Linked DNA regions of Homo sapiens. The protein of the gene in region 3 purifies or fractionates together with the protein of the main gene of each other region. This does not show direct contact. Each region holds a gene or a part of one and is shown on either strand. Other genes may lie near its edges. The genes, in order: PLCD3, DENND11, EFNB3, TUBB3, RAD51C, TRIM11 and PKN3.

Region 1 (3,500 bases), about 37 Mb from region 3:
AGGGTTAGGCCTTCTCGCCCCTGTGGCAGCCAGTCAGTCAGTTATTCAACCACCGCCTTGTGAGGGGCTGGCTAGGGGTGGGAGGCAGGAAAGGAGACACAGAGATGAGCGATGTTTCTAATAGGAAAGAGTGGAGAATGGCCCGGGAGGCCATCAGGAAGGGATGCTTAATAAGGTCCCTCAACATCAGAATATACACAGCAGCCACTACAATGCACGCGACAGCTCAGGACTGAAAGGAAAGGGACCCTCTTCAAAGAAGATCTTACGTGGAAGAAGTGAGGCTACAACCTGGAATCACATGTCCTTTTTTGGTACCATTTAAAAGAGAAGACAGTACACATATGTACACAGGTAATGTGTGTGGGGAAATTCTTGAAGGACATGCAAGAAAGTTAGAGATGGTTACTTCTTGTGAAAGAGGACAGGTCAGTGGAGGGAGGGGAGCACTGCTCATCGCGTCCCTTAGTACAGCTCAGTTTTCTTTTACCATACGGGTGTGATTTTCACAGTAATAACAAAAATCACATCTCACACACACACGAGGGTGAGTCAACCCTGCCTGCATGTTGGGGATTGGAAGTAGGAGGAGAGTTTTCTCAAGGAGCCCGACAGGATAAATGTCTGGAGAGAGCCGAGGACGCGCTCTGGTGTCTGGGGGAGAGCAGGAGGCCGCCTCAGGCCCGAGAGTTGGGGAAGTGGATAAGGCCACAGGAAGAGGCGGCTGAAGTTGAGCTGAATTCTAAGCAGGTGACGCTTGGCAAGTGTGGATGGCCGAGAAGGGACTTCCAGGTGGAGAAAGTGTCAAGCGGGGCCTTGCAGGTGGGAATGGCAGAGCCTGCAGGACTCTACGGGCAGGGACACAGGGCCAGCAGGGCAAAGCCAGGTTACAGAAGAGGGTGTGTGTGTGGGGGGGTCTAGTCAAGAATGGAGAGCCAGAGGGCAGCAGAAGGACAAGACCAGGGGATGGCAGACCTCAGATGAACAGAGGAACAGAGAAAAGTTAAGGCAGCAAGAGGTGAGGGGTCCTGAGCCACAGAGGTGGCACGAGCAGTGCGGGGAGGCGGACTCCCACCAGACCTCCCTCCACCCAGGCTAGGGGCTGGGGGGCGTCACCTCTGGGGATGGCAGCTCCTCGGGATTTGGGGAGTCCAGCGCCTGTGTCACCAGCATGTCCCCCAGGATGGTGCAGAGGTGGCGGGCCATGGCAGCCTGCTGCTCCAGCCCGCAGTGGTTCTCCAGGGATAGGATGACAGGGTAAGGGGACAGCTGTGGGGGGAAGGGCAGCAGCTCAGAGCCACTCCCCTCCCTCTGCCAGTATCTCCCAACATCTGGCTCCCAGACCCTTCAGGACAGGCAGGCAAAGGCAGGGCTCTGGAGAACCCAGGGAAGCAGCAGACTGTCCAGGAGGCTGAGGGCGGCTGCAGGAATTATTTTTTTTTTCTTTGAGATGGAGTGTTGCTCTGTCGCCCATGCTGGAGTATAGTGGTGCAATCTCAGCTCACTACAATTCCATCTCCCGGGTTCAAGCGATTCTCCCTGCCTCAGCCTCCTAAGTAGCTGGGATTACAGGCGCCCGCCACCACACCCGGCTAATTTTTGTATTTTTAATAGAGATGAGGTTTCACCATGTTGGCCAGGCTGGTCTCAAACTCCTGACCTCAGGTGATCTGCCCACCTCAGCCTCCCAAAGTGCTGGGATTACAGGTGAGAGCCACCACGCCTGGCCGATTTTTTGTTGTTGTTGTCTATGCTTTGGTCTCTCTCCATCACCCAGGCTGAAGTGCAGTGGCACAGTCAGTCTCCCTGTGTTCTCCAGTCCTGGGCTCAAGTGATCCCCCCACCTCAGCCTCCTGAGTAACTCAGCCTACAGGCACATGCCCCCACACTCAGCTAATTTTTATTTTTGTTGAGACAGGATGTAGCTATTTGCTCAGGCTGGTCTGGAATTCCTGGCCTCAAGTGATCCTCGCGTCAGCCTCCCAGAGTGCTGGGAATACGGGTGTGAGCCACCGCACCTGGTCCCATAAATGCTTTTTACATGTGAATGACATTGACTATGTCAGTGATGTGAAAACTCTCCTCCCATCATTTGCTGATGGGAAGATTTGCACACTGTGACCAAAGTTGCAGTGTTTATGCAGATGCCACTGGTGAGCTTCTCTTACAGCTTATTTATTCTTTGGAAGTCATGATTAAAATGTCCTTCCCTCCCCCAAAGGTTTTCTTCTGGAAACTCTGTGATTTTTAGGACATTTCCCAAATATGAGAGAGGGAACATATTTCCCAAATATGAGGGTGGCATCTCATTCAGCTTTATGCCACCCCATTGGCCACTTATCCCAGCAGCACTTGGTGAATGAATGATTCTCTGGGCAAGGGTTTCCTCTGGAAGGACGGAGGGCAGCTGGCATGTGAGTGCGGACGGAGGTCATTGGGAAGGCTGTGGGGCTGGGGCTGGGCATCCCAGGGGCTCACCGTGAAGGCATGGTCGCGCACGGCTTGGACCACGTCCCGGAAGAGAATCTTGGAGGTGAGGGTATGGCCATGATAGATGACGGGCTCCCCTCCTGGCCCCTCCCAGCAGTCCAGCTCCACGCAGCGGCATCCCTGGGCAAAGGCCCTGTGTGTGGACAGATGGGTGGACGGGCAAGGTGTTGCCAGAGTGCCACAGAGCAGGGCAGCAGGCAGGCTGGGCCAGGAAGGCCCCAGGAAGCCAGCCCATGTCTCTCCCCAGGTGGGGCTCCCGGAAACATTCACCCCCTGCTACAGTACCTAACATAGGCCTCGGTGCTGCTGGGCCCCCCGATCTGGGAGTCAGTCAGATAGGTGTTGTGGGAGGAAGAGATGAAGTAGTGGGCAAGGGGCTGGTTCATGTCCTGGAACACACACGTGTGGGTGTTGTCCAAGGCAGCCCCCTCCGGCGACAACAGGTACATCATGAAGCCATCCAGTGTCATCAGCTCATGCTGCTTGGCTGCAGGGGTGGCAGGAGAGGGCATCAGGCCACATAGGGATCCCCCATGTCCAGCTTCCAATGCCCCCAAGGCCCACTCAGCTTAGGAATAATGACTAGACAATCTACTGACTAGACTCCATGTAAGTCATGCCACTTAACCTTCGACCAGACCCTGGGAGGAAGACAAACTGTTGTGCCATTTTACACATGTGGAAGCTGAGTCTGGAGGAGGTGAGGTAACCTGCCCGAGATGATGCCCGCGCCAGCCCGCAGCAGAACCCGCTTAGCTGGGAACACAGCCCTTTCAGGTGCCACGACCTGGCCGTGCCACCCCCCCCACCTGTCTCGTTGAGCTCATAGGTCTGAATGAGCTGCTGGGCGCGGGCCAGTGTGGCGCCCTCCTCGCCCTGGTCCTCCAGGAACTCCAGCAGCTCAGGGGCACTCAGCACGCGGTCCTCGCCCGAGTACTGATGGAAGATCTCCTCCAGCTCCGGCCGCTTCAGCAGCCGCCGCAGGAACTCCTCGATCTCAGCCCCCTCTA
Region 2 (3,500 bases), on a different chromosome or scaffold from region 3:
CCTTCGCCTGTGTTGCCAAAAGCGATAAAGTGAATATTGACTTCTTTACCAAAATTAGAGCATATTTTAGAAGTTCTTACATAGGTGTGATTTGTCTGCTGTTTAGTTTCTCTCGCTGGCCTGCCTGCTTAGCCACTTCCCCATGTCTCTCCCACCTGTGTCCTCAGTTTCCACTCCTAGGAGATCCTTCCTCCCCCCACCCCACACCCACCTCAACCCTCCGCCACCCCCATCACTTACTGCCCAGGCCATGGCATTATGTGCATCTTCCCATGTAATGTGGGTAACTGTTGGCATGTGTCCAAATCAGTGTGTGTGCCTGAGAGAGAGGGAGAGTGAAAGAGGAAGAAGAGAATTCATAGCTGTACATTCATTAGGTAGTAGAGTAAGAGGGAAAAGGAGGGGTGGATCCTTGTTAGAAAGGGTGTGTGTGTGTGTGTTTGAGCAGGAATATATGCAGTGATTCTCTAAGGTGTGGAAATAAGAGTAATCCTTTTGCACTTTTAGATACAAGTTTTGGAAAGCTAGGCTGGCCATCTGTGGGAAGAATCAGAGAAAGAGTCTTAAAGCTTATTTCCATCAGACTCATGGATTGAAAATTATGGTTGCTGAGTCTACAGGTGACTTAAGAACTAGGGGCTTCAGGTTCAAAGTGAGGCTTACACATACACTCAGTCCTCATCTGGAGCAGGGGGCCCTAGGATGGTGGTGCTGATCATCTGGGCCACAAAGCTGCTATTGAAACCAGACCCAGATGCTAACTCTGCAAGCTGGGTGGAAGATGTTGGAAGCCAGAATATTGCTGTTTCATTTTGTTCAACCCCATGATTTAGAGCCTTGATTTTAATTTTACTTCATTATTTGGGCTTCTAGTAAAATGTTCTTAGTCTGCTTAATTAAAGGAGAGGATATTGTCACACTTGGGGAGCACCCCTGCCCCCAGATGGTGGCAAGAGCGGTATCACCGTGTGGCTGAGGACTTGTGTGTGGGCAGGATGGAGGCCGATGAAGCTTTGAACATACAATGTCTGGACATCTTTGCATCTGCCTCATTAGACTGTTTCTTTATAAGAGATTCACTTTACACTGCTGCGTTTAGAGTTTTATTGTGGGTGTCTGGGAGAAATTCCTGTGCTCCCTGTGTTTGTACTGGGGCAGCTTGCAAGAGGAGGGGTAAGGTGAGAGGCAGATCACCTGCTGAGGTTTTCAAGATGTTTCTCCCTTTCTTCTTGGGAATGAATTTCTACCTGTTCCTCAGCCTCTAGCCAGTGCCCAGATTACATCTAAACACCTATTTAATTTAATGTATCCGAGCGCTTCTATGTTTATGTCACATGAGTACATTTAAAATCACACACACTAATTTTAATCTCTGTAGATTCCCTGTATAGTCTATGAAACATAAGCATTTTTTTTTTAAACAATGGAGATGATGGAGGCCCAGTGAGAATAGGGCTAGGTCTGGTGTCTGAGGCACCACTTGGAGCGCTGCCCAGGTCATCTGACTCGTGGCAAATAATAAATGGCTCTAGCAATGGGTGGGAAAGTGACAAAGTAGAATGTGAATGGAAAATTTGGAGGACAATTTTAAGATGCAAAGAGCAGTCGTAAGCATGGACAGCTCAAATGCAGGCAAAGAAAAAGCCTGTTCTGATATCCGGCCAGAACGTCTCGCAGGAAGAGAAACTCTGTCATGTCGCCATCCTTCCCCTGTATTTCCACCTAATGCCAGTGGAATACAATTGTGGTTCATTTGCTTAATCCCACCCGGGTAGAATCTTTCCCAGGCTGTTGGTGATTCACCTGCTTGTGGTTTTCAGGGAGAAATCAGTTTGTAGCCATCTGCTGTGAAGTCAGTTTCTTCTCTTGAAAATTGAGGAGGGGAAAATAAAAATGGTAATTGTAATACCCACCACCTCCTGAGTGCCTGCTGTGTGCCAAGGACTGTGCCACATGTTTCAGTGACCTGCCTCTGATCCTCCCAACAGACTACACCATCATCATGAGAAAAACAGGTGCACAGAGCCATTAAGTTGTCTAAAGTTAGGGCCAGAGCCCAAGTCTACCTGCACCCCTTATCCACACCACACTACCACCCAGTGGAGAATGATATGGGATCTGTGAAATGGAAGGTCTTTCTTTGTAAAGTGAATGCATTGGAATTCAGCCATGGATTGGCATATAGCTGACTTTAAATCAGCAGGATTAGCTTCTTCCTGACTCAGGATTCTTTATCCTGATGCTTTTCTCTTTGCTTTGGATGTGCTCTCAGACTAGGTGGTTTTAAGACTGTTTCAAACCATGTAAGACCCAAAGTCAACTCACCTGGGTTATTTACTTTTCTGATGTTAGGGTCTGAACCAAATACTCTTTGGAGGTTTCCACCTGTGGGATCTGATGGCCCCTTTAGGTGGTTATGTGAAGGGAATGTATTGTTGGGACCTAGAATACTCTTTGATTCATGCCTTTATTCCTGAAACAGGATTTGTTTTGACTTCCTGATTACAATCAGGGCATATGTATACACAGATGGGAAGAGAACCGTGGAAAGAGTAAAACCTCAGGCACGTGCTGGGGTGGGAGTTCCACTCCTGAGGTCAGAGGAGCTGGAAGAGGATCTCCAGCTGAGGCAGTCTCTGGATAGGAAATGAAGAGCTCAGGAGGAAGTGCTTGCTTGGGAACCATCTAACAGAGGAGGAAGAAGAAATTCACATATTTCCTATTAAAAAGAGATTGTTTTGGTTCAAGATCATTGCTTTCTCTATTTTAAATATTTTGAGGTGAACTTTCTAGCAGACAGCAGTTACTGCAGTTAATGTCCAATCTCCCTAGGAAATAGTGATGAATTTTAAGACAGCTGGGGGTTTGGTCATTTCTCATTTAAACAGAACTAGTTTTGGAAGACAGAGGCAGTGGTCAACCTAGATAGGACAGCCTACCTCTGGCCTAGCCCATGGGCTTATAAAACCCCAGCTCTGGGAGGCCCTGGTGCACAGAGCTGTCAGGCTGACCTTTGGAGCTGTGAAGTGGCAGGGTTCAGACCATCTGTACATCCTCAGCCAGGCGCGACACTGACCTTCTGGCTTTGCCTGGGTAACTGAGCTGCCAGCCTCGTAGTCGGTTAGTCCAAGTTCCTTTAAACAGAGACATATTTGCCTTTGCATGAGCTCAGCACCTGGCAGGCACCGTGCTGCCAAGTTGTGCTCCACCAATATTTGTTCAATGACCAGCTGAATGTACACAATGCATATTGCCACATTTGTGCCTCCCGTGGTCATGTGAATCCCTCCTCAGAAGTTGTCTTTGCAGTAGAGGCTAGGAAGTGCCTGTAAGTACCTGTAATAGGTCCAAGTCATGGTCCAAGATGAGAAAGGACACAGAGATGGAAAGAGAGCAAGTTAGGGGAGAAAAAGGCACTTGTCACTGGCACCTCCTCTCTTTGATGGACTAGCCATGAGATGACCTCTTTTGTTGAATCTTCCAGGCCCCAGCTCCCTGGC
Region 3 (3,671 bases):
GGTTATGGGTATACAGGGAGCCAGGGCACACGCAGCTTGATGCCTGGGTCCCTCCCTGAGTCCTTCCTACTTCCTTCTGATCAGCCACATCCCTTCTCCCCATGAGTCCCCAACAGCAAAACTTCTCAAGTGCCTTGGGTAGGGATGGTAGGGAATAGACTTTAACATGTGAACATGTTTTTACCACTTTGATCCTAATTGCGTCTTACCCTGTCTCTGGTGCTTTGGCTTAGCAAGACACTCAGACTGTCCCCATGGATGAATTGGCGACCCCACTCCTGCCTGCATTACTCTCTCCCTCCCCTAGAGGTGACACCTTCCTCTGCCTTCTCGCCCAGCCCATTTTCGCCTCCCCAAGCACTGCCAACCTCACCACTCCAAACTAGCCCTATCCCTACCCACCCCCCTTGGTTGGTTTCATGCAATCCAACCCTCAGCTGAAAGCCATTCTAACCAAGCCTTTGTCCCAATTCAAGTCCAGTCATTCTCCAGCCTTCTTGTCAACTTTTGAAGTTTTTTATTTTTATTTTTTTTGGTTTTTGTTGTTCAAATTTCCCTTTTACAGTAAAACTACTGAGGTGACGGCATACCCCGCCACCATGGCAATATCAACTTCCTGTTCCCCAGAAGGAGCGATTAGAAAAATCAGGAAGGAGCTGGGAACTACAGCACCAGAGAGGTGAACTTGACCTCTGGTGGACAAAGCAACCATCTTGGCTGGTGATTGAGGTGGCCAACCTGGTGCCCAACAACAGCTTTGATCTAATAAAACTGAGCTGGGAGGAAACTGAGGCAACACCCAATTGCACACTAGAGGGCAGGAAGAGGTATCAGCTGGTCACTATGGAAACAGTGGCCTTTGCTAAGTACCACTGTCAGCTAGACCAGCCAGTAGGCCACCATTTTGGTCACTAAGAAGGGAACTGTGTTGAGTCTGAAAGGAGTCAGAAATGTAGGATGGAATGAACAAGACAGCCATCTGGGTTACTCGGGAGAGCACATGGGTTCTTGGGGTAGTCCTGTTGATTAACAGAGATTATACTGGGATATGGAAAGGAAAGAACAAGACAAATTAGGCCTGCCACAGCACATGGCAGTCATCTTAGCTGTCCTAAAATCAGCACAGAGCACAAGGGAAGGGAGATCTTGGGAAGTGCCACTGAAGACTGGGAAAAGTCCTTCTCGGTCCACCTCTAACCTCTTACAGTCAGTAAGTTCCAGCTTCCTCCTGAAAGGAAGTTCTTCCCGCCCTTCTTCTCCACAGAATAAGAACCATCCACCTCCCACCTCCTGATCCCCCAGACTAAGCCACTTGGAGTTCCAGCCAGACCACTTCCTGTTTCAGAAGTGCTACTTCCTGTCCTGGATGAAGGCACTTCCAGTTCCTGCTGCACTGCTTCTGCTACTTCCCAGGCCATTTCTGTCCGGGCCTGGTCACCTCTTGTCTGGAGCAAGTCACTTCCGGTCCCAAGTGGCCCATTCAGCATCAGACCAAGTCCATACATGTCCCGACCGGTTCATATCTTGCTATTGGCCACTGGACAAAACGGGACACTTCTTCTCATGGTAGCTGTCATGACCCAACCACCCCAAATGGCTGGAGTAAGTATGTAGAGGCCTGGGCCAGGCCAGAGAATGGAGCCCTGCTGCCCATGGCCTGAGCTGGGGTGGAGTGTCAGAGCCTTCCCCATAAGGCCCCCATTTTTGGCAGACTGAGGGGAGTGGTTGGTATGAGAGGTCAGAAGGGGGGCTGAAAGCTAAGGGGAGAAATGCTTTGATGCCCCCACCCAGGAGATGGGAGAGGCACAGGATAAGAAGCCAAGAGGGTGAAAGGAGATGTGGGGAGGAGGATGCTAGGGAAGAAGAACAGACCTAGAGACGGAAGAGAGGGAAAGAATAAGAGATAGAGAAGAGAAAACCAGTGAGAGGCAGAAAGAAGGCGGTGCCAACCAAAAGGTGGGCTGTTCCCGCCCCTAGCTCTGGGTGGGTGAGGGGGACAAGGATGCCTGGGTCATGGTCAGAGAGGAGGCTGAGCCTGTGCCCCTCCCCAAGGAAAAAGGATCCAGGGACACTGAGACAGAGGGGGGCACCCATGGCCAAACGGGAGGGCAGGAAGTGGGGCAGTGGGAATCCTAAGGAATCCTAAAAGTGGAGACGAGGACAGCAGCCGGGAGGAGTGAAGGGGCTGGGGGGGCACAGGGGGCCGAGATGTTAGAGGTGTCCCTCAAACCAGGAATTAAACTGGAGGAGCACCCCAAGAAGGGCTGGATTCAGGATAGCCACGTGAGAGGAGCCCTCATACCTTGTAGTAGATGTTTGGAGGGCTCTGGGGGGGCCCATCCTGCACGATATACACAGGATGCCCATAGTCACCACTCACCTTCTCATAGTGGGGGCAGAAGGGGGGATCTGCAGCCCCGCCACCCCGCAGAGCTATCCCTAGCTCCCCAGGCTCAGCCTCCCGAGGTCCCATCCCACCTCCACCCCCCAGGCCCAGAGACCCTCCCCTCCCGAAGGAGCCAGGACCAGGGTGGCGACTCTCCGAAGGCTTGGCCCGCCGTCTCCGCCAACACATGGCACCCCCAGCCCCTGCCACGCCCAGCAAGAGCAGCGCCAGCCCCCCTGCTGCCCCAGCCACTGCAGGCATGCTGGGAGGGGGCAGGGGGCCTTCAGCACCCCGGGAGGTTGCATTGCTGGTGGGGTCACCTGGCAGGGAAGGGGTGAAGGAGGAAAGAGGGGGAGGGACTGAAGGAGCCACCTGGGCACCTGGACACCCAACCCTGGGGGTCCCCATGGGCTTCCCTTGTAGCGCCCAGGCCCCTTGGGGACCCCATCTCTCCTCCCCCTCCGAACTCTGCTCAGAATCCAGGTGTCCAGCCCTTCAGCTTCCTGCCACGGAGTCCTCCCCACTTCTCTGACAGCACTGATTGAAGCACTGACTTGGCTAATTAGTTCTAATTGAGTCTTTTCCTCATTTGGTTTCCATTCCCCTCCCACCCTCCCATCCTCTCTTCTCCTCTTTCCTGTATCACCGCCCCCAAAACTGAAGAGGGAGGGAGGGTGACGGCAGGGCAGCTGGGGTCTGAGAGCAGAGGAAGCTGGGGAAGGCAGGGGCCTAGCCCCTGGTTCCTACCTGGCAGGTTCTCCTTCCCAGGCTCCAGGCTGTGGGCTGCCCCTCGGTCTCTTTCCATGGGCATTTCAGACACAGGTTTTCGGGGGACAGCCCCTCCTCGGGGACCTGGAGATGAGGAAGACCCAGAGAGGGGCTGAGACAACTGCCCCAACCATGATCGTACTGCCCCAACGTCCCTTCGTGCCCAGGAGGTGTCCCCCAGCCCCACTCACTTTGTCCCACTCGGAGAAGCACCTTCATGCCTCTGGTTAGGCACACACCTCCCTGCAGGCTCTCCAGGCCCTCCCGGGTCCCATCCGATGTGGCTGGGAGAGAAAAGCCAGAGGAAGAGGTTGGCACTCCAGAATCTAGCCCTGATTCTGGCCCCACACCCTGGTGTGAACACTGCCTGAGGGCACTGGGATCTCCCTCTTGGCTGCAGGGGTCCCCCTCCCTCTCTGCTCAGTATCAGGAGCCCCCCACTCAATCGTGCCCTCTGCCCAGCAGTACCAATGATGTAGTAATCGTGGTGCGAGCGGAACTCGTGGCCCCAGAGATT
Region 4 (3,256 bases), on a different chromosome or scaffold from region 3:
GCATCTCCCTGACCTCAGCAGCCCCTCCCAGGGCCCAGCCCCGAGACACTAAACACACCGTCTTTTTCAGGGAGCACTCGGGGCCCCCTTCCCTACCTCCCTGGTTGTGACCCGAGGCTTCAGGTCTGATGGCAGTTTCCACCGCAGGAGGGACCACCTGCCCCAACTTTCAGCCTACAGACAGGTGGGAGAAAAGTCTGGGGTGCAAGCCGCTCTGTGGGAGGCCAGGGAACGAGTGTGGGGTTATTTCCAAGTCGGGAGGGCTGCATCTTGAGGTCTGGAATGAGGTACTTCCCGTTCCTTCTCCCGGGCTTCCCGTTTCCGGGGTCTCCCCACGGGCTGTGCCTTGAGACACATTCCGGCCCCCAGCGCAGGCCTCTCTCAGCCGCCAGCCTGGGAGAGGATGAGCTCTTCTTGCCTGTCCACCCGGGCCTCCCTGTCAGCCCCTCCACCTACTGGACACAACTTTCCAGAATAAAAGGACATCTCTGGCACCAAGCAAGGGTATCTGACAGCAATAGATTTATTAAGTATCCCCGAAAATATAAACACAAACCAGTAAAAAACAAAACCGTAAAACGTCAGGCCTGGAGCTGCAATAAGACAGAGACAGGAGCAGCTCACACGTGGCCTAGGTGGGGAGGACGAGGCCATAAATACTGCAGGAGGGCGGCAAGGGAGCCCTAGGGCGAGGGGAAAGCAGGGTGTCGGCAGCAAGATGGCTCCGGGGGTTTAGACACTGCTGGCTTCGGCCCCGGCCGCCACCTGCCTCTCACTCCAGCTGCGAGCAGCTTCACTTGGGGCCCTGGGCCTCCGACTCCTCCTCGTCGTCTTCGTACATCTCGCCCTCTTCCTCGGCCGTGGCGTCCTGGTACTGCTGGTACTCGGACACCAGGTCGTTCATGTTGCTCTCGGCCTCGGTGAACTCCATCTCGTCCATGCCCTCGCCCGTGTACCAGTGCAGGAAGGCCTTGCGCCGGAACATGGCCGTGAACTGCTCGGAGATGCGCTTGAACAGCTCCTGGATGGCCGTGCTGTTCCCGATGAAGGTGGAGGACATCTTGAGGCCGCGGGGCGGGATGTCACACACGGCCACCTTCACGTTGTTGGGGATCCACTCCACGAAGTAGCTGCTGTTCTTGCTCTGGATGGCCAGCATCTGCTCGTCCACCTCCTTCATGGACATGCGGCCCCGGAACACGGTGGCCACCGTCAGGTAGCGGCCGTGGCGCGGGTCGCAGGCGGCCATCATGTTCTTGGCATCGAACATCTGCTGGGTGAGCTCGGGCACGGTCAGGGCCCGGTACTGCTGGCTGCCCCGGGCTGTGAGGGGGGCGAAGCCGGGCATGAAGAAGTGCAGGCGCGGGAAGGGCACCATGTTGACGGCCAGCTTGCGCAGGTCAGCGTTGAGCTGGCCCGGGAAGCGCAAGGAGGTGGTGACTCCGCTCATGGTGGCCGATACCAGGTGGTTGAGGTCCCCGTAGGTGGGCGTGGCCAGCTTGAGGGTGCGGAAGCAGATGTCGTAGAGCGCCTCGTTGTCGATGCAGTAGGTCTCATCCGTGTTCTCCACCAGCTGGTGGATGGACAGCGTGGCGTTGTAGGGCTCCACCACCGTGTCTGACACCTTGGGTGAGGGCACGACGCTGAAGGTGTTCATGATGCGGTCGGGATACTCCTCACGCACCTTGCTGATGAGCAACGTGCCCATGCCGGAGCCCGTGCCGCCCCCCAGCGAGTGGGTCAGCTGGAAGCCCTGCAGGCAGTCGCAGTTTTCACACTCCTTCCGCACCACATCCAGGACCGAATCCACCAGCTCCGCCCCCTCCGTGTAGTGACCCTTGGCCCAGTTGTTGCCGGCCCCACTCTGACCTGTACAGGGAGAAGAGGGGTAAGAGACAGGGGCCAGGGACTCTGCAGTCCAGACCTCCAGCCCCTGCCTGAACATCCCAAGGGCAGCCGTGGCAGCCCCATGCCTGTTCTGTCTTCTGTAAAGTAGGCCCCACTGAGCACCCCTTCTCATACCCGCCGTGGCTTCCCTGAGCCGATGCTGCTGAGTGCTCAGGACGAGGGCTCTGGACAGAGTCTTGAGAACTTGGGGTCACAGCAGAGCGAGGCTCTGCCTCCTGAGGGGATCCTGGGTGAATGGATCAGCCCTCCTGCTCCAGCATACCTTCCTTCCGACTGGCAGTGCCAGGAGCCCAAACAGCCACCCCAGAATCCCTGGCAGCTGGGGGCTGGATGCGAGTTGGCATCTACCAGCTGGATGTGCTGCGGTCGGGAAGGCAGAAGTGAAGCGAGGCCCTCCTGTTTCTGTGGCGCGTCCACGGCCCCGCCCCAGGACACAGACATGGGAACGTGGCATCCACGGCCCCGCCCCAGGACACAGGCATGGGAACGTGGCATCCACGGCCCCGCCCCAGGACACAGGCATGGGAACGTGGCATCCACGGCCCCGCCCCAGGACACAGGCGTGGGAACGTGGCATCCACGGCCCCGCCCCAGGACACAGGCGTGGGAACGTGGCATCCACGGCCCCGCCCCAGGACACAGACGTGGGAACGTGGCATCCACGGCCCCGCCCCAGGACACAGACGTGGGAACGTGGCATCCACGGCCCCGCCCCAGGACACAGACATGGGAACGTGGCATCCACGGCCCAACCCCAGGACACAGGCATGGGAACGTCCTGATCTCTTGACCGCAGCAAGGCCTCGTGCTCCTGGACCCCGGAGTCCTCTGGAGGCCCCGTTCTGTCTCACCAGCTCTCTAGCAATTCTGTAAGCTTCTGTCTGCTTTACACTTCATTCCACTTGAAATGCATGAGTGGTTTCTGTTCTCCCCACAGAACCCTTTCTCTGGGCCTCCAATGCCCAGCTGTAAAATGGAGAGATGAGTTCCCACCATTCAGGATCATGTGAGGAGCTGACCATTCCTTGTTTCTCACAGCCGTCCCCGTCCACCGACCTGGGCTTGCCTGTGATGGGGTCTGCCATCAGAGCTTGGAGCAGGGGGAACTTACCAAAGATGAAATTGTCAGGCCTGAAGAGATGTCCAAAGGCCCCTGAGCGGACACTGTCCATGGTTCCGGGTTCCAGGTCCACCAGAATGGCTCGAGGCACGTACTTGTGAGCTGAGGGGAGAGAGGGGCTCGGTGATTCGGGTCACAGAGGGCCAGAGCCTCTCCCTCATTCTTTCTGAATTCTGTGCCCGCCTGCCATCCTCCTGCTCACATCCTAAGAGCCTGTACTCTGAAGTC
Region 5 (3,500 bases), about 51 Mb from region 3:
AGGCAAATTTCATTGGACCATAAGGCTCAAGAATAATCCTTTGCTGGCCAGGCACGGTGGCTCATGCCTGTAATCCCAGCACTTTGGGAGGCTGAGGCAGGCAGATCACGAAGTCAGGAGTTTGAGACCACCCTGGCCAATATGGTGAAACCCTGTCTCTACTAAAAATACAAAAATTAGCCGGGCATGGTGGTGCGTGCCTGTAGTCCCAGCTACTAGGGAGGCTGAGGCAGAAGAATCACTTCAACGCAGGAGGCAGAGGAGATTGCAGTGACATGAGATCATGCCACTGCACTCCAGCCTGAGTGACAGAGTGAGACTCCATCTCAAAAAAATAATAATAATTAAAAAAAGAATGATCCTTTGCTTTGATGCTCTGCCTTCCAGGCCCACTGCAGTAGCAGAATCACCCTACTGCTCTGTGGGGTGGCCCTGCCCCTTCCTCTCTCTGCAAGGGCCCCACCCTCTGAAACCAAGGACGACATAGCATTGCCCCCTGGGCTTATGGTAAGAGTGACAGCTCTGAGGATCTGTGATCCCCTTTGGCACCATTCTTTCCTTTTCTTGAGGAATAGGGCACATTCACAGTCAAGTAGCTCATGGTTTTCTCTTGTGGAATCAAGGAAGTCCAACAGCCTTCGTTCATTCTTTCCCACTTACTCTGTCCTCTTTACTTCAAACTAGCAGTGTTTCTGCTGTTATAATCCCTTATCTATCACTGGCTTCTGCTGAGATGGCTGATTAACATCATGGATAATCTATTTATAGAGTCATTGTTCAACCGTACCTTTGGTCTTCTCTCTAGAGCAAGCTTTCTTATTTTTAGCAATATGGATAGGCTGAGAATTTTCTACATCTCTAAGTTCTGGTTCCTTCTTGCTGAACAATTCCTTCTTCAATTCATCTGTCTCCTCTTTCATTTTTACTATAAGTGGTCTAGGAGAAACCAAGCCACTTCCTCTACACTTTGCTTAGAAATCTCCTGAGATAAATAGCCAATTTCATTTCTCACAAGTTTTACCTTCCATAAAATACTAGAACACAGCCAAGTTCTTTGCCACTTTATACTAAGCACCAGCTTTCCTTCAGTTTCCAGTAACTTGTTCCTCATTTCTGTATAAATCCTCACCAGAATAGCCGGGCATGGTGGCTCACACCTGTAATCCCAGCACTTTGGGAGGCTGAGGTGGGCGGATTGCCTGAGGTCAGGAGTTCAAGACCAGTCTGGCCAACATGGTGAAACCCCGTCTCTACTAAAAATACAAAAAAATTAGCTGGGTGTGGTGGCGTGTGCCTGTTAATCCCAGCTACTAGGGAGTCTGAGGCGGGAGAATTGCTTGAACCAGGGAGGTGGAGGTTGCAGTGAGCCAAGAACGCACCACTGCACTCCAGCCTGGGCAACAGAGCGAGACTCCATCTGAAAAAAAAAAAAAGCCTCACCAGAATTGCCCTTAATGTCCATATTTTCAGTATGTGCCTCAAAACTGTTCCAGCCTTTGCTTATTACCCAATTTGAAAATCACTTCCACATTTTAGGTATTTGTTATAGTAGTACCTTGCTTCTCTCACTACCTAACCCACCATACCTCATTTCTTGATACTAAAATTTGTTGTGGTCACCTCAGGCTGCCATAACAAAAATACTATAGTCTGAGTGGCTTGAACAACAGAAATTTTATTTTCTTACAGTTCTGGAGACTAGAAGCTCAAGATAAGGTTCTGGCTGATTGGTCTCTGGTGAGAGCTCTCTCCCTGGCATGTAGATGGCCACCTTCTTGCTGTGTCCTCATGGGGAGGAAGGAGGAAGAGTGAGCTCTTTGGTGTCTTTTCTTCAAGGACACTAATCCTCTCAAATCAGGATGTCATTCTCATGACCTAATTTTACGTTAATTACTACCTTAGAGGCCCTCTCTCCAAATACAGTCACACTGGGAGATAGGGCTTCAATTTACGAATATTGGGGGGACACAGCAGTGGTCATGTGTGGAGTCATGAAAAATCGAATCAACCTGTGCACATATTCCCAGCTGACGTTGAACAAGGTCATGTTCTGCCTTTTTATTTCAGCTCTCTACTGTAAACAAGTGTCCTTTTCACAGTCTTTATAATGCCACTTTTTTTTGCATTTTTGTGCTTTTTATTAGTGTTCACCTGTTCTTCATCACTTCAACCAGTTTCATTTTCTTATAATTATCGGAAATTACCTTATTTGTGTGTTTGTTTGCATATTAATGGTCCCTTACTCCACTAAAACATAACCTCCAAGAGAGCAGGGACCTTCTCTCTTATTTACTATATTCTTCTCTCTTATTTACTATATCATCCCCAATGCCTGGAACAGTAAATAGCATATAGGAAAGGAGGTGTCAATTAATACTTGCTAAATGAAGAAACAAATACTCTAAATAAAACAACTTACTTAGGCATTGCTTCATAAAAGCCTCTTGTTTAATCCAACCCTTACTAGATAGAAAAAAACATAGCATTGGAGTCTTTTGTTTGTTTACATTTGGGTTAGTTTCCAGATTCTTTTTGATTTGGGGATCTTAAGGTTTATATATTGGTTTATTTTTCTAACTTCACTGTTTATTTTTTGCTTTGGGGGGGGCTTTCTTTTGAAAGGGTTTTGCTCTGTCCCCCAGGCTGGAGTGCATGGCAGGGTTTCACCACGTTGGCCAGGCTGGTCTCAAACTCCTGACCTCGTGATCCACCTGCTTCGGCCTCCCAAAGTGCTGGGATTACAGATGTGAGCCACCGCGCCCAGCCTGAAGGTTTTTTTGTTTTTTGTTTTTTGTTTTAGGAAACATAAAAAGAACCCGGAAGGTAAAATTGGTATATTTAATTGACAAATGTGTTGTTTTACCAAGACTTTTTCTTTAAGCCTTTTCAGAATGTTTTACAAAGACTTTAAATGTGCTTTTTATCAGTAAAGACTGTGTACAGTGGCAAGTTAAAGAAAATTATAATTATTCCTTTTTCTTTTTGAATTACTTTTTTTTTTTTTTTTTTTTGAGACAAAGTCTCACTCTGTCGCCCAGGCTGGAGTACAGTGGCGCAACCTCTGCCACCAGGGTTCAAGAGATTCTCCTGCCTCAGCCTCCTGAGTACCTGGGATTACAGGTGCCTGCCACTGTGCCTGGCTAATTTTTGTAGTTTTAGCAGAGATGGGGTTTCACCATCTTGGCCAGGCTGGTCTTGAACTCCTGACCTCGTGATCCACCTGCCTCGGCCTCCCAAAGTGCTGGGATTACAGGTGTGAGCCACCGCGCCCAGCCTTTGAATTACTTTTTTAAAGTTGAGAAATTATCAAAGCAGAGTCCGTTTTAACTTTTAGTGATTATTGCAGAAAGCACTGGCTGAACAGCTTTGTAACTTTCCAAAAGAAAGCCATACTTTAGACAGTTGGAAATAAAGCCCTGGGTTTTAAGGTTTTTTCCTGTAATGGACTATGGTTTTTCCAATGCTATGTTTTTTTCTATCTAGTAAGGGTTGGATTAAAG
Region 6 (3,500 bases), on a different chromosome or scaffold from region 3:
AAAAAATACAAAAATTAGCTGGGTGTGGTGATGGGCACCTGTAATCCCAGCTACTCAGGGGGCTGAGGCAGAAGAATCACTTGAACACAGGAGGCAGAGGTTGCAGTGAGCCGAGATCGTGCCACTGCACTCCAGCTTGGGGGACAAAGCGAGACTCCGTCTCAAAAAAAGAAAACTGAAAATGTCCCGTAGGGACTGAGGCATTGAGGGAGAAGTGAGAGGCACTGGGCCAAGTGTTTGAGGTGGGGTTGGGGTCACAGGGGCCAGGCCTGAGTTTTCTGGAACAGGTCGGCAGCAGTGAGGAGAGAGGCCTGGGGACAGGGACCGCCATTTGGGGTTCTTGTAGCTCACGTGAGAGCTGAGCCTAGGCAGAGACAGTAAAGCAGTTGGACATGTCCTTGGTGCTCCAGCGGTCTTCCCGAATCGTGAGGCCAAGTGGTGAACTAAAGTGAGCACCTGGAGCCAGGCAGCTGGGCTGAAGTCCTGGCTCTGCTACCGGGGCAGACTTCTGGACCCTCCCAGCACCTCCATCCTTCCAGAGCGTGGATAGCGAGAGATGAGAGCCAAGACTTGGGGTGGCTGAGAAGCAAAGAGGTGTGGCCAGCACAGGGCCCGTTGCTGATAAGGGTGTCAGATGGGGTGGAAGTGAGCAGACCCTTCGAGAAGTGGGTTCAGGGCACCCCAAGCACACACAGTACAGTGAGCTTGTGTACAGGATTTTCACTGCTTCCTGGTATGCACAGCATGAGGAACCGTGGGAATGAGAATTAAGGACCAAGAAAGCAGAATGGAGGTGTACCCATCCTGGAGCTTATTACAGTGATAGCTGATGAAGCTGAAAATGCACAAGGTCCCGAGTGGCTTGGAGAAAAGATAGGGTGGGTAGCCAGGCATGTCTGTCCGTGCTGACTGTCCTACCAAAACACCATGGTTTGCACATGGCAGATGTATACAAGCTGGAGACTCACAGCTCTGGAGGCTGGAAGTCTAAGATCAAGCCCTGGCAGGTTTGGTGTCTGGTGAGGGTGCTTCCTGGTTCACAGACAACACCCTCTCACTGTGTTGTCATATGGTGAAAGGGGCGAGGGTTCCTTTATAACACTAATCCCATTGTGGCGGCACTGCCCTCCTGACCTAGTCACCTCCCAAAGCCCCCGCCTCCTAACATCATCACACTGGGTGTTGGGATTTCAACCTATGAATTTGTGGGGGCATAGGGCAGAATTTTTGGACCCCAGCATAGGCTTGGTCCAAGGCCCTTATGTGAGCCAGCAGGTGAGAAGGAAGAGGAGGAGGAGTAGACACTGGCTTGGGAACAGGAGAGCTCAGCACCTTCAGAGCCAGCTTGGGGACAGATGGGGTGGGCAGCCAGAACCCTTGAGGTAGCTTTGCAAAGGGGGGTGAGGCCTGGGCTAGGGTAGCAAGGTCGAGGACTAGAAATGCCCCATATGAGAAAAAGGAAAGAATGTGGCTGGGGCTGTCAGCCTCTGGCAAGAGGCTGCCCACCTACCATGAGGGCTCACGCTTATTGGAGGGCATTGAGTTCCCTGATTCACCAGGCAGATTTCAGTTTGTCCCCATTGTCTTTGAGGAGGGGACAGGGTGTCAGGTGCAAAAGGGCAGGCTTCTGTGACAGGACTCATGTCTCATGGTCCTGCCTGGCCTCTCCCGCAGGCGAAGCTGGAGAAGTCACTGGAGCATCTCCGGAAGCAGATGCAGGATGCGTTGCTGTTCCAAGCCCAGGCGGATGAGACCTGCGTCTTGTGGCAGGCAGGTGCTGGGGCTCCCAGGGTCCTGGGTGGCAGGGTAGGGGGTGAAGGTCCTGTATAGGAGACCCCAGGGGGCGATGCTGGCCAGGCACACTTGCCCTTGGCGCCCCAGGACCAGTCACTGCTTCAGCCTGGCCCCACCGAGCCCACTGAAGGGCTGGTCCTTTCCCACGTGCACCTGTCCTGCCAGGTCGTGGGCGTGGGCTCCCATACTGCAAGGGCCCCATCCTGGGGTCCCAGCATGCTTGGGTGGCAACTCTCAGGTGTATTTAGGGTCTGGGCCCTGGAGGTAAATTTGGAGGTTTTGAGGGACTAGGTCATAGATGTGGGATTCAGCCATCCTGAGGAGTAGATTTGGGATCTGTCCAGTTCTGGGGTAGATTTGGGGTCTGGGAGGCTCTGGGTGGTGGATTTGGGATCTGGGAAGCCCCAGGGGAGAATTTGGAGGTCAGGAGGGACCCTGGGTGGTAGATTTGTAGTCCAGCTGGCCCCAGGTGGTAGATGCAGGGTTCTACCAAGCCAATGGGTGGATTTGGAAGTTGGGGAGGGACTAGATAGTGGATTTGGGATCTAGTCGGCCCTGGGTTTAGATTTGGGGTCTAGCCAGTCCTGTGTGGTAGAATGGGATTTGGCTCTCCCTGAGTGGTGGATTTGGGGTTTGGGAGGTGCCACAGGTGGGTTTGGGGTCTGGCCAGCACCAGGTGGTGGGTTTGGGGTCCTGCCACACCTGGTGCTGTGCTTTGGCTTTAGCAGGCCCCGGGGGTGGGGTTGGGTGCAGCCAGGCCTCTGGGTGGGCTTGGGGTCTGACCAAACTTGGGGTCTGGCTGGGCCTGGGGTCTGGCCTCAGCTGTCCTTCTCCCTGGGCTCCACAGAAGATGGTGGAGAGCCAGCGGCAGAACGTGCTGGGTGAGTTCGAGCGTCTTCGCCGTTTGCTGGCAGAGGAGGAGCAGCAGCTGCTGCAGAGGCTGGAGGAGGAGGAGCTGGAGGTGCTGCCCCGGCTGCGGGAGGGCGCAGCCCACCTAGGCCAGCAGAGCGCCCACCTAGCTGAGCTCATCGCCGAGCTCGAGGGCCGCTGCCAGCTGCCTGCTCTGGGGCTGCTGCAGGTGAGCTGGGCGGGGAGCAGCCATGGTGGCCACACGGGCATGGCCTGGCCACACTGGGGGAGGGAGAACCAGAAAGTGCAAGAAGCAGGGGCAGAGAGGTTGTCTGGGCTGAGAGGTGAATGGCATGGCTGGATGTGCCTGGCTGTTGCCTGTGAAATGCTGAGTCAGCAGCAGGACAGATGTCCCACCCCCAAAACCCACGTGCCGAGAAAGGGAAAATCAATTTTCCTCTGTAGATGTAAACAGTTGATGTTTCTTAAGTGATTACATAAGGTCACTCCATCTCGTCCTGACTGACACTGCTGCTCCCTGTGGGCACAGCAGAGTGGGCATGTGCTCGCTGGGACCACCTTGGGCCTCCCATAGGATTCCTGCCATGGTGTCCCCAGCAGGAAGTCCTCGCCCTTCACTCTGTCTTCACCCCGCTGGCACACCCCATGCATCTCCATTATGGGGGGCAGTCTCCTCCTCCTCTGCTTCCAGGAGAGTCTTTTCCCATGTGTGGGCTCCACTCCCTGAGCCGGCCCCCTGGGCCTGGGCTTTCCTTGGTGCACCCCCAAACCAGAACCAGTGGACGCCCTGGCCTGTGGCCTGGCGGCAGGTCAGGGGGCCTGGAGTCAGCTCTCTC
Region 7 (3,500 bases), on a different chromosome or scaffold from region 3:
AAAAAAAAAAAAAGGAGGGGGAGGCTGGGCACAGTGGCTCATGCCTGTAATCCCAGCACTTCAGGAGGCCAAGGTGGGAGGATTGCTTGAGCCCAGGAGTTCGAGGCCAGCCTGGACAACATGGTGAAACCCGCCTCTACAAAAAATACAAAAATTAGCTGGGCGTGGTGGTGCACACCCAGCTACTCGTGAAGCTGTGGTGGGAGGATCACTTGAACCTCAGTGGCGGAGGCTGCAGTGAGCCGAGATCGCACCACATCACTCCAGCCTGGGCAAGAAAGTGAGACCCTGTCTCAAAAAAAAAAAAAAAAAAGGCTGGGCGCACTGGCTCACACTTGTAATCCCAGCATTCTGGAAGGCCGAAGCAGGTGGATAACTTGAGGCCAAGAGTTCGAGACCAGCCTGGGCAACACAGCGAAACCCTGCGTCTACTAAAAATACAAAAATTAGCTGGGCGTGGTGGCGCACTCCTATAATCCCAGCTACTCGGGAGGCTGAGGCACAAAAATCTCTTGAACCCGGGAGGCAGAGGTTGCAATGAGCTGAGATCACACCACAGCACTCCAGCCCAGGCGACAGAGCAAGACTGTGTCTCAAAAAAAAAAAAAAAATGAAAAGAAACCATCAGTCTACTTGCCTGGCACTTTGGCTGAGGGCCCAGTGAGCCAGGGGTGTTGTGCAGGGCACAGGGCACAGCCCAGGGAAAGTTTTCCTTCCCTCTAATACTCTTGCTCTCTCCTGTAGCCTGTACTGCGAGAAGCGGATCCTGGAGGCTGTGGGCTGCACAGGGCACCCTTTCCTGCTCTCCCTCCTTGCCTGCTTCCAGACCTCCAGCCATGCCTGCTTTGTGACTGAGTTTGTGCCTGGTGGTGACCTCATGATGCAGATCCACGAGGATGTCTTCCCCGAGCCCCAGGCCCGGTGGGTTCCATCCCTCCTGCCTGCCTCTTCCAGCAAACTTTGCCTGGTTCCCTACACCCACTCTCTACATACTGCTTTCTCCAAGTGCCCAACAGCAGGGGAGCAGGAGTCAGAGGCCTTGGTTTACATCCTGGCACCAACTGACAGCATTTGTGATCCTGGGTATCAGCTTATGAAGCTGTGCATTAGGTTTCTTTTTTTTTTTTTTTTTTTTTTTTTTGTGAGACAGAGTCTGGCTCTTATTGCCCAGGCTGGAGTGCAATGGCATGATCTCGGCTCACCACAACCTCCGCCTCCCTGGTTCAAGCCATTCTCCTGCCTCAGCCTCCTGAGTAGCTGGGATTACAGGCATGCACCACCACTCCTGTCTAATTTTGTATTTTTAGTAGAGACGAGGTTTCTCCATGTTGGTCAGGTTGGTCTCTAACTCCTGACCTCAAGTGATCCGCCCACCTCGGCCTTCCAAAGTGCTGAGATTACAGGCGTGAGCCACCACACCTGGTGAGTCTCAGATCTTTATTTGAAAAATAGGCATGATTGGCCGGGCACCTGTAATCCCAGCACTTTGGAGGCTGAGGCGGGTGGATCACCTGAGGTCAGGAGTTCGTGACCTGGCCAACATGGTAAAATCTTGTCTCTACTAAAAATACAAAAATTAGCTAGGCATGGTGGCACACGCCTGTAATCCTAGCTACTTGAGAGGCTAAGGCAGGAGAATCGCTTGAACCCAGGAGGCGGAGGTTGGAGTGAGCCGAGATCCCGCCACTTCGGTCTGGCGACAGAGTGAGACTCCATCTAAAAAAAAAAAAAAAAAGGCCGGGCACGTTGGTTCATGCCTGTAATCCCCACACTTTGGGAGGCTGAGGCGTGTGGATCATGAGGTCAAGAGATCAAGACCATCCTGGCCAACATGGTGAAACCCTATCTCTATAAAAACTAAAAAAAAAAAAAAAAAAAAAAAATTAGCTGGGCGTGGTGGCGCGTGCCTGTAGTCTCAGCTACTTGGGAGGCTGAGGCAGGAGAATTGCTTGAACCCAGGAGGTGGAGGTTGCAGTGAGCCGAGATCGCACCGCTGCACTGCAGCCTGGGTGACAGAGTGAGACTCCGTCTCAAAAAAAAAAAAAATAGGCATGATGAATATCCACTGCAGGGACCAACACTTGGTCCCTGGCACCATTTAAGGGCCCATGAAGGGTGAGCTGGAAATGCACGCAACCTTGGGGCGACCTTGGGACTATTGGAGCACCCCCACCCTCAGCATGATGCTTGTCCCAGTCTCACTCATCTCTGACTCTGGCCGGGACATCCGGGATCCCCCCGCTATGGCCATCCTGGTGCCTCCCTGCCCTGCCTCCCTGGTGTGTGTCTTGGGCCTGAGTTCTCCCATAACCACCCCTGCAGCTTCTACGTGGCTTGTGTTGTCCTGGGGCTGCAGTTCTTACACGAGAAGAAGATCATTTACAGGTGACTTTTGTCCCAGGGATGCACGGGGGTAGGGGTGGGGGTGGGGGTGGAGTGGGTAAGGACAGATGCTGCCTCCGCCTGCCTGGGCTGCTCCAGGGGCCGTTACTGTTCCCTGGGTCTAAGCCCCACTCAGTCCCTTTGATCTGCACCCTTGCCCTCAGGGACCTGAAGTTGGATAACCTTCTGCTGGATGCCCAGGGATTCCTGAAGATCGCAGACTTTGGACTCTGCAAGGAAGGTGGGGGCCGCCCATTGGGATCCATATCTCCAGCCTTGTTTACCCACCCTGGCCAATAGGATGATGGGCACATGGCATGTCCCAGGAAATCTCCTCACCTGCGGATGCCCTGGTTCCACCACCCCAGACCTCATTCCAGGGGACAGCTGGGCACACTGGCCCTTTCTTCCTAGTCCTAGAGGCTCGTAGCCCCAGCCTGCACCTGGCCCAAGGGAGAGCCTGTGGTCAGGGATGGGAGAGGAGACTGAGTTCTGCCTTCTGTTTTTTTTTTGGTTTGTTTTTTTTTTTGAGACGGAGTCTTGCTGTGCCGCCCAGGATGCAATGCAGTGGTGCAGTCTCGGCTCACTGCAGCCTCCACCTACTGGGTTCAAGCGATTCTCTTGCCTCAGCAGCCCAAGTAGCTGGGACTACAAGCGAGCACCACCACACCTGGCTAATTTTTGTATTTTTTTAGTAGAGACGGGGTTTCACTGTGTTAGCGAGGATGGTCTCGATCTCCTGACCTCATGATCCACCCACCTTGGCCGCCCAAAGTGCTGGGATTACAGGCGTGAGCCACTGCGCCCGGCTTCTTTTTTTTTTGAGATGGAGTCTTGCCCTGTTGCCCAGGCTGGAGTGCAATGGCGCAATCTCGGCTCACTGCAACCTCTGCCTCCAAGGTTCAAGAGATTCTCCTGCCTCAGCCTCCCGAGTACCTGCGATTACAGGCACATGCCACCACACCCAGCTTATTTTTTGTATTTTTAGTAGAGACGGGGTTTCACCATGTTGGCCAGGCTGGTCTCGAACTCCTGACCTCATGATCTGCCCACCTCGGCCTCCCAAAGTGCTGGGATTACAGGTGTGAGCCACCGCACCCAGCCGAGTTCTGCCTTCT

Evidence for each region.
Region 1: the proteins of EFNB3 (region 3) and PLCD3 purify together in Homo sapiens (affinity purification with mass spectrometry; 2 studies listed by BioGRID and IntAct, with this or other methods). This does not show direct contact.
Region 2: the proteins of EFNB3 (region 3) and DENND11 purify together in Homo sapiens (co-immunoprecipitation; 3 studies listed by BioGRID and IntAct, with this or other methods). This does not show direct contact.
Region 4: the proteins of EFNB3 (region 3) and TUBB3 purify together in Homo sapiens (affinity purification with mass spectrometry; 2 studies listed by BioGRID and IntAct, with this or other methods). This does not show direct contact.
Region 5: the proteins of EFNB3 (region 3) and RAD51C purify together in Homo sapiens (affinity purification with mass spectrometry; 2 studies listed by BioGRID and IntAct, with this or other methods). This does not show direct contact.
Region 6: the proteins of EFNB3 (region 3) and TRIM11 purify together in Homo sapiens (affinity purification with mass spectrometry; 2 studies listed by BioGRID and IntAct, with this or other methods). This does not show direct contact.
Region 7: the proteins of EFNB3 (region 3) and PKN3 purify together in Homo sapiens (affinity purification with mass spectrometry; 2 studies listed by BioGRID and IntAct, with this or other methods). This does not show direct contact.

The regions. Positions count from the first base shown.
Region 1 is NC_000017.11:45,115,516-45,119,015, forward strand, and holds part of PLCD3 (1-phosphatidylinositol 4,5-bisphosphate phosphodiesterase delta-3), read right to left. Parts: coding exon 3,300-3,500; intron 2,978-3,299; coding exon 2,776-2,977; intron 2,624-2,775; coding exon 2,479-2,623; intron 1,270-2,478; coding exon 1,117-1,269; intron 72-1,116; coding exon of another isoform or gene 42-71; exon of another isoform or gene 1-41. UniProt on the Homo sapiens protein: Hydrolyzes the phosphatidylinositol 4,5-bisphosphate (PIP2) to generate 2 second messenger molecules diacylglycerol (DAG) and inositol 1,4,5-trisphosphate (IP3).
Region 2 is NC_000007.14:141,695,667-141,699,166, reverse strand, and holds part of DENND11 (DENN domain-containing protein 11), read left to right. Parts: intron 1-3,500.
Region 3 is NC_000017.11:7,708,202-7,711,872, reverse strand, and holds the end of EFNB3 (ephrin-B3 precursor), read right to left. Parts: coding exon 3,623-3,671; intron 3,439-3,622; coding exon 3,346-3,438; intron 3,239-3,345; coding exon 3,134-3,238; intron 2,707-3,133; coding exon 2,297-2,706; 3' UTR 501-2,296; downstream 1-500. UniProt on the Homo sapiens protein: Cell surface transmembrane ligand for Eph receptors, a family of receptor tyrosine kinases which are crucial for migration, repulsion and adhesion during neuronal, vascular and epithelial development.
Region 4 is NC_000016.10:89,933,342-89,936,597, reverse strand, and holds the end of TUBB3 (tubulin beta-3 chain), read right to left. Parts: intron 3,131-3,256; coding exon 3,020-3,130; intron 1,870-3,019; coding exon 794-1,869; 3' UTR 501-793; downstream 1-500. UniProt on the Homo sapiens protein: Tubulin is the major constituent of microtubules, protein filaments consisting of alpha- and beta-tubulin heterodimers. Microtubules grow by the addition of GTP-tubulin dimers to the microtubule end, where a stabilizing cap forms.
Region 5 is NC_000017.11:58,706,102-58,709,601, forward strand, and holds part of RAD51C (DNA repair protein RAD51 homolog 3), read left to right. Parts: intron 1-3,500. UniProt on the Homo sapiens protein: Essential for the homologous recombination (HR) pathway of DNA repair. Involved in the homologous recombination repair (HRR) pathway of double-stranded DNA breaks arising during DNA replication or induced by DNA-damaging agents.
Region 6 is NC_000001.11:228,400,336-228,403,835, reverse strand, and holds part of TRIM11 (E3 ubiquitin-protein ligase TRIM11), read left to right. Parts: intron 1-1,674; coding exon 1,675-1,770; intron 1,771-2,641; coding exon 2,642-2,872; intron 2,873-3,500.
Region 7 is NC_000009.12:128,716,003-128,719,502, forward strand, and holds part of PKN3 (serine/threonine-protein kinase N3), read left to right. Parts: intron 1-744; coding exon 745-921; intron 922-2,322; coding exon 2,323-2,385; intron 2,386-2,546; coding exon 2,547-2,623; intron 2,624-3,500.